Linked DNA regions of Homo sapiens: region 1 is linked to region 2. The links come from fine-mapping of genetic effects on gene expression. A gene starts in region 2. The other region holds a variant in brackets. All regions are shown on one strand. Distances are between the middles of the regions.

Region 1 (2,912 bases), 370 kb after region 2:
AATATCTGAAAGGGGATGAGACTGGTCTGGGAAGCAAATGAAGCCAGAAGTTATTGGACTGAGAAGAGAGGTTTAATTCTGGAAGCTGATGTTGATAGCAAATTCAAAAGTGAGAGAGTTGGAGTCAGAGGATAGGCACTGGGAACCACATGTATCACAAAAAAGTTATTAATAAGTAAAAAATGTGTAAAAATGTATCTGTGTGTACTTATGTTTGTAGATAGATATACATTTTCAAATCAATAAGTAAAAGGTTAATAGCTCAGTCAAAAGGGAAAAGGATAGGTAAGGTGAAGATAGGTTTGTATGTATCTGCAAAATATGTAAATCAATAGAGATTCAAATACTGTAGTAATTAGAGAAATGCAATCTTTAAAAAACTGAGATATTGGGCCAGGCGCAGTGGCTCACACCTGTAATCCCAGCACTTTGGGAGGCCGAGGCGGGCAGATCATGAGGTCAGGAGTTCGAGAAAAGCCTGACCAACATGGTGAAACCTCGTCTCTACTAAAAATACAAAAATTAGCCGGGCATGGTGGCGTGCGCCTGTAATCCCAGTTACTCAGGAAGCTGAGGCAGGAGAATCACTTGAACCCCAGAGGCGGAGGTTGCAGTGAGCCGAGATCACACCACTGCACTCCAGGCTGGGCGACAGAGCAAGACGCTGTGTCAAAAAATCAAAAACAAAACAAAACAAAACAAAAAAGATATTGTGGGGTTTTTTTGTTTTTGTTTTTGTTTTTGTTTTTCTTGAGATGGAGTCTCAATTTCTTGTTCTGTTGCCCAGGCTGGAGTGCAGTGGCTCGATCTCAGCTCACCGCAACCTCACCCTCCTGGGTTCAAGCAATTCTCCTTCCTCAGCAACCCAAGTAGCTGGGATTACAGGCGCACACCACCATGTCCGGCTAATTTTTTGTATTTTTAGTAGAGACAGGGTTTCACCATGTTGGTCAGGTTGGTCTCGAACTCCTGACCTCAGGTAATCCACCCGCCTCGGCCTCCCAAAGTGCTAGGATTACAGGCGTTAGCCACCGTTCCCAGCCTAAAAACTGAGATATTGTTTTTAACCAATTAGCTCAACAAATATTTCAGAGACTCTGAGTAACTTACATTGGTGAAGCTATGAAAAAAAAGAAAAGGCACTTTCATGCCTATTTGATTGGAGTGTAAATTACTATAACCGTTTAGTGTGTAATTTGGTAATATCTATTAAAATTCCAAATGTGCATATCCTACAACCTAGCATGTATATTTTTAATATTTGGAGGAATTTATTCCACAAAAACATTTCCACAAGTGCCCAGAGAAATATATATACAAGGCTGTCACTCCAGCCTGGGTGACAGAGTGAGACTCTATCTCAAAAAAAAAAAAAAAAAAAAAAAA[AAAAAATAT/A]ATATATATATATATATATATGTATGTATATATATGTATGTGTATATATATGTATGTATGTATATATGTGTATGTATATATACACACACAAACACGGATATTTATTGCAATGTTGCTATAAGAAATTTGAAACAATACAAAAGCCCACCAACAGAGAAAATGGACTACTTGAGTACTCAGCAGCCATTAAAAAGAATAAAGCAGATTTTTTTTTTTTTTTTTTGATATGGAGTCTGGCTCCGTCGCCCAGGCTGGAGTGCAGTGGCACCATCTCGGCTCACTGCAACCTCTGCCTCCCAAGTAGCTGGGACCACAGGCGCACACCAACATACCTGGCCAATTTTTGTATTTTTAGTAGAGACGGGGTTTTGTAATGTTGGCCAGGCTGGTCTCTAACTCCCGACCTCAAGTGATCCACCTGCCTCAGCCTCCGAAAGTGCTGGGTTTACTGGCGTGAGCCACCATGCCTGGCCCGGTTATGACTTTTTTTTTTTTTTTTTTTTTTTTTTGTGAGATGGAGTCTGGCTCTGTCACCCAGGCGGGAATGCAGTGGCGCGATCTCGGCTCACTGCAAGCTCCGCCTCCCAGGTTCACGCCATTCTCCTGCCTCAGCCTCCCGAGTAGCTGTGACTACAGGTGCTCGCTACCACGCCCAGCTAATTTTTTGTATTTTTAGTAGAGACCGGATCTCACTGTGTTAGCCAGGATGGTCTCGATTTCCTGACCTCGTGATCCGCCTGCCGCAGCCTCCCAAAGTGCTGGGATTACAAGCGTGAGCCACCGCGCCCGGCCTGACTTTTTAAATCAAATGTGTCAAGTAAATTCTTCTGAGGAAAGAGGGGAAAACATTTTAAAGCATCACTAATCCTGTTGACAAGTAGTTCCCAAACTTAAGCATACATCACAATCACCTAGAGAAGCTGGTTAAAACACAAATGCCACAGGAAGTGGTGGTGCATGCCTGTAGTCCCGGCTACTGGGGAGGCTGAGGCAGGAGGATCACTTGAGCCCAGGAGTTTGAGGCTGTAGTGCACTGTGATTCACCTATGAATAGCCACTGCACTCCAGCCTGGGCAACATAGACCCCATCTCTTAAATACACACACACACACACACACACACACACACACACACACAGGCCAACACCCCCAAAATTTCTTATTCATTAGGACCAGGATAAGGGTCCAAGAGTTTGCATTTCTAGCAAGTCCCTGGGAGATGCTGTAATTCAGAGACCTGTTGCATAGACCAAAAAGTTGGCTACCAATCCATCCTCTACCACTCATGTGATCCTACTTAGAAGTTTTTACCTGAGGCGGGGCGTAGTGGCTCACGCCTGTAATCCCAGCACTTTGGGAGGCTGAGAGGGGTGGAACACAAGGTCAGGAGTTTGAGACCAGCCTGGCCAATATGGTGAAACCCCATCTCTACTAAAAATACAAAAATTAGCTGGGCATGGTGGCATGCACCTGTAGTCCCAGCTACTTGGAGGCTGAGGCAGAAGATCTCTTGAACCCG
Region 2 (2,912 bases):
GGTTTTCACCATGTTGGCCAGGCTCCCAAAGTGCTGGGATTACAGGCGTGAGCCACTGTGCCTGGCCAATATCCATTTATTGAACCCCTATCTATGCACACTCTGCTAGACTTGGGGATACACATCCAGAACACACACAGCCCCTGCCCTGAGGTTGTTCACTGTCCCTGAGCCTAGCAGGTGTGACAAGTGTTGTGGTACAGGGCCCCCAGCGTGCTCTGAGCATGACAGGAACGTCCCGAGGTGGGAGTGGGGCTGGGGGCAGCACAGGTGCACAGGAGGGGCGTTGAGGTCAGAGTTTCTCCAGTAAAGAAGTAGAGGGTGTGAGCGGGCAGAGTGCGCACAAGGGTCAAGGCTGAAAGGACCTGACTCTTTGGTGGCCTTCCTCTCTGATATGGCTGGAATGATAAGCAGGAGCTCATCACTAATGCCTCACCCGCAGGGTTTTAAGTGGATCTTGGTGCCCTGGCCCAGGGGGCACTGGCGTTTTCAAGCGGAGGATGTGTTCCAATTTGCCTTTTAAGAATGTCTAGGCCGGACGCACTGGCTCACGCTGTAATCCCAGCATTTTGGAAGGCCGAGGCGGGCGGATCACTTGAGGTTAGGAGTTCGAGATCAGCCCGACCAACATGGTGAAACCCCATCTTTACTGAATTAGCCAGGCGTGGTGGTGCCCACCTATAATCCAAACTACTCGGGAGGCTGAGGCACGAGAATCACTTGAACCTGGGAGGTGGAGGTTGCAGTGAGCCAGTATCGCACCACTGCACTCAGCCTGGCCGACACAGCGAGACTGTGCCTCAAAAATAAAATAAAATAAAATAATGTCTAGTCGGAGAGCCGGGGAGGTGGCGCGCGCCTGTAATCCCAGCCACCCAAAGAGCTATGGTCTCGGCACTGCACTTCAACCTGCGAGACCCAGTCTCAAAAAGAAAAAAAAAAGTTTAGTCGGCAGCCAGCAAGGCGGGACGCTGGGAGGCCAGTTCAAAGAGTGTCGTCCCAAGTGCCGGAGGGACGGAGCTGTAGCCCCCAACCTGAGCTGGACCCGAGGGTGGCGGTGACTAGGACTCTCAAGCCCTACAAAGCTGCTCCCAGGAACCCGAGGCCTCAAGGCTGGATCTGAAAGAATCGGAATGAAGACTCGGAATGAAGAGTCCCAGGGGAACAAGTCCTGTGTGACTCCGCCGCCAGGACGACCTTCCAGAAAGCAGACTTCTCCGCTCCAGTTCTAGCGGAGACGGAGAGAGTGAACCAAGAACCATCATCCTGCGCCAGCCAGGGGCAAGCGGAGCCTCAGTTGCTCCCAAACCCACGCCCGCCTCTCCTTCCTCTCCTCCTCCACAGGCTTTCATTTATTTACTTAAGTATTTTTAGCCCAGTAGCAGTTTCCAGTCCAGCGGCTCCTCAGATCTTTCGCCGGCTGTCCGCCCCACCTGTCCGTCAGCACGCGAGCCAATGAGCGGGCGAGGGCAGCGCTGTGCCCCGCCCCTGAGCCGGCAGCCCAGTCTCGGGAGCCCGGGGCCGCCTGGGCCTCCTGCCCGCCGCGCTCGAGTCTGGAGCTCGAGAGTGACACTGCGCATGTGCGGGCGTCCTGCGCATCTCCTACGGCCTCCAGGACAGAGGAACCGGGGGAGGCAGGGGGAAAAGGCCGGCCCAGCAATTCCCCTACCCCCCGGTCCCACGTGTACCCTCCTGGCCTGGGTCGCCCCAGCCCACGGGGAGCGGGCGGAGTCCTGGCCCACGAAGCCTTGTCACCTGGCGGGCGAATCCGCAAGCGGAGACTTGTCTTTAAAGGGCTTTGGGCCGGGCGCGGTGGCTCATGCCTGGAATCCCAGCACTTTGGGAGGCCGAGGCGGTGGATCACGAGGTCAGGAGTTCAAGACCAGCCTGGCCAAGAAGGTGAAACCCCGTCTGTACTAAAAATACAAAAAAAAAAAAAAATTAGCAGGGCGTGGTGGCGGGCGCCTATAATCCCAGCTACTCGGGAGGCTGAGGCAGAGAATTGCTTGAACCCGGGAGGCGGAGGCTGCAGTAAGATCGCGCCACCGCACTCCAGCCTGGGCGAGAGAGGAGACTCTGTCTCAAAAAAAAAAAGGGAGCGGGGGGGCTTTGGTCTGTGCAGGAGCTTCCCGGAGATGCTTTAGAGCTGCGTTTGCAAAGTGCAGCGCCAAATGCTGCAGAGAGGTGGGAGTCAGAGGAGAGGAGGACTGCGGTCCCAAACCCTAGCAGTTTAGTCTGTCGGGGAGGAGAGGAAGGGAACCCGGAGAGCACTTGTAAGCTACAGTGCTGAATATGAGGAGGTACTGAATTGAGCATCAAATGCTGAGAGTTAAAGAATTCTCCCTAGGGACCAGCCAGCTATTATCTGGAAGCAGTGAGTTTGGATAGAGCCTGGAAGCACGGGTAGCATTGCTGTTAGCAATAAAAGGTGAACGTGTTAACATTCACTGCAATTCGTTGTATACACTATTAAAATATAACTTGCTCAATTCAGGGGCGGTGAGTAAAGTAAAGGAGTCAGAGCTCCTAATTATTGGAGAGGCCAGGGAAAGCTTCACAGAATTCAAGCTTGAGTAGGGTTTTGTTGAAAGGGAAGGATATACAAAGCATTGAATGTATGCAAAGTTCAGCTAAAGTAAACAGTCCTTTTTGTGTTAGGCAGAGTGCTAAAAGTACTCTGGCTATAACGAAGACTACAACACCACCTTCAGGGACTTTAGCGTCTGTGGAGACTTGAACATCTAATGTTAGAAATATTCTCAGAATTCTGAGACAGCCACCTAGCCTGGCCTTCAGGGAGATCTTCCAGGAAGAGGAAATAACACAGAAAGTGTGGTATATTTAAATATACCTAGCCAGGCGCGGTGGCTCACACCTGTAATCCCAGCACTTTGGGAGGTCGAGGCCAGTGG

Direction of the effects. Positions count from the first base shown, and alleles are read on the strand shown. Sizes are in standard deviations (SD) of each study's normalised expression.
For the expression in iPS cells of the gene that starts at base 1,589 in region 2, allele AAAAAATAT in region 1 goes with a lower level than allele A (large effect, 2.0 SD a copy in iPSCORE).

The links.
Region 1: its variant is fine-mapped to the expression of FALEC in iPS cells (iPSCORE, PIP 0.95).

Annotation. Positions count from the first base shown.
Region 1 is chr1:150,883,982-150,886,893 of GRCh38, forward strand. It overlaps a transcript of LOC107985204 not described here. Among named protein-coding and RNA genes, the nearest start is that of CTXND2, 1.7 kb to the right of the region's middle. RefSeq lists enhancers at 277-421, 2,042-2,186 and cis regulatory regions at 349, 2,114. The variant AAAAAATAT/A (reference allele first, on the strand shown) is at 1,387.
Region 2 is chr1:150,514,164-150,517,075 of GRCh38, forward strand. FALEC (focally amplified lncRNA regulator of ECM1) reads left to right here and starts at 1,589. Exons shown (of 6, transcript NR_186305.1): 1 at 1,589-1,899. RefSeq lists enhancers at 1,034-1,103, 1,174-1,323 and a silencer at 1,414-1,783.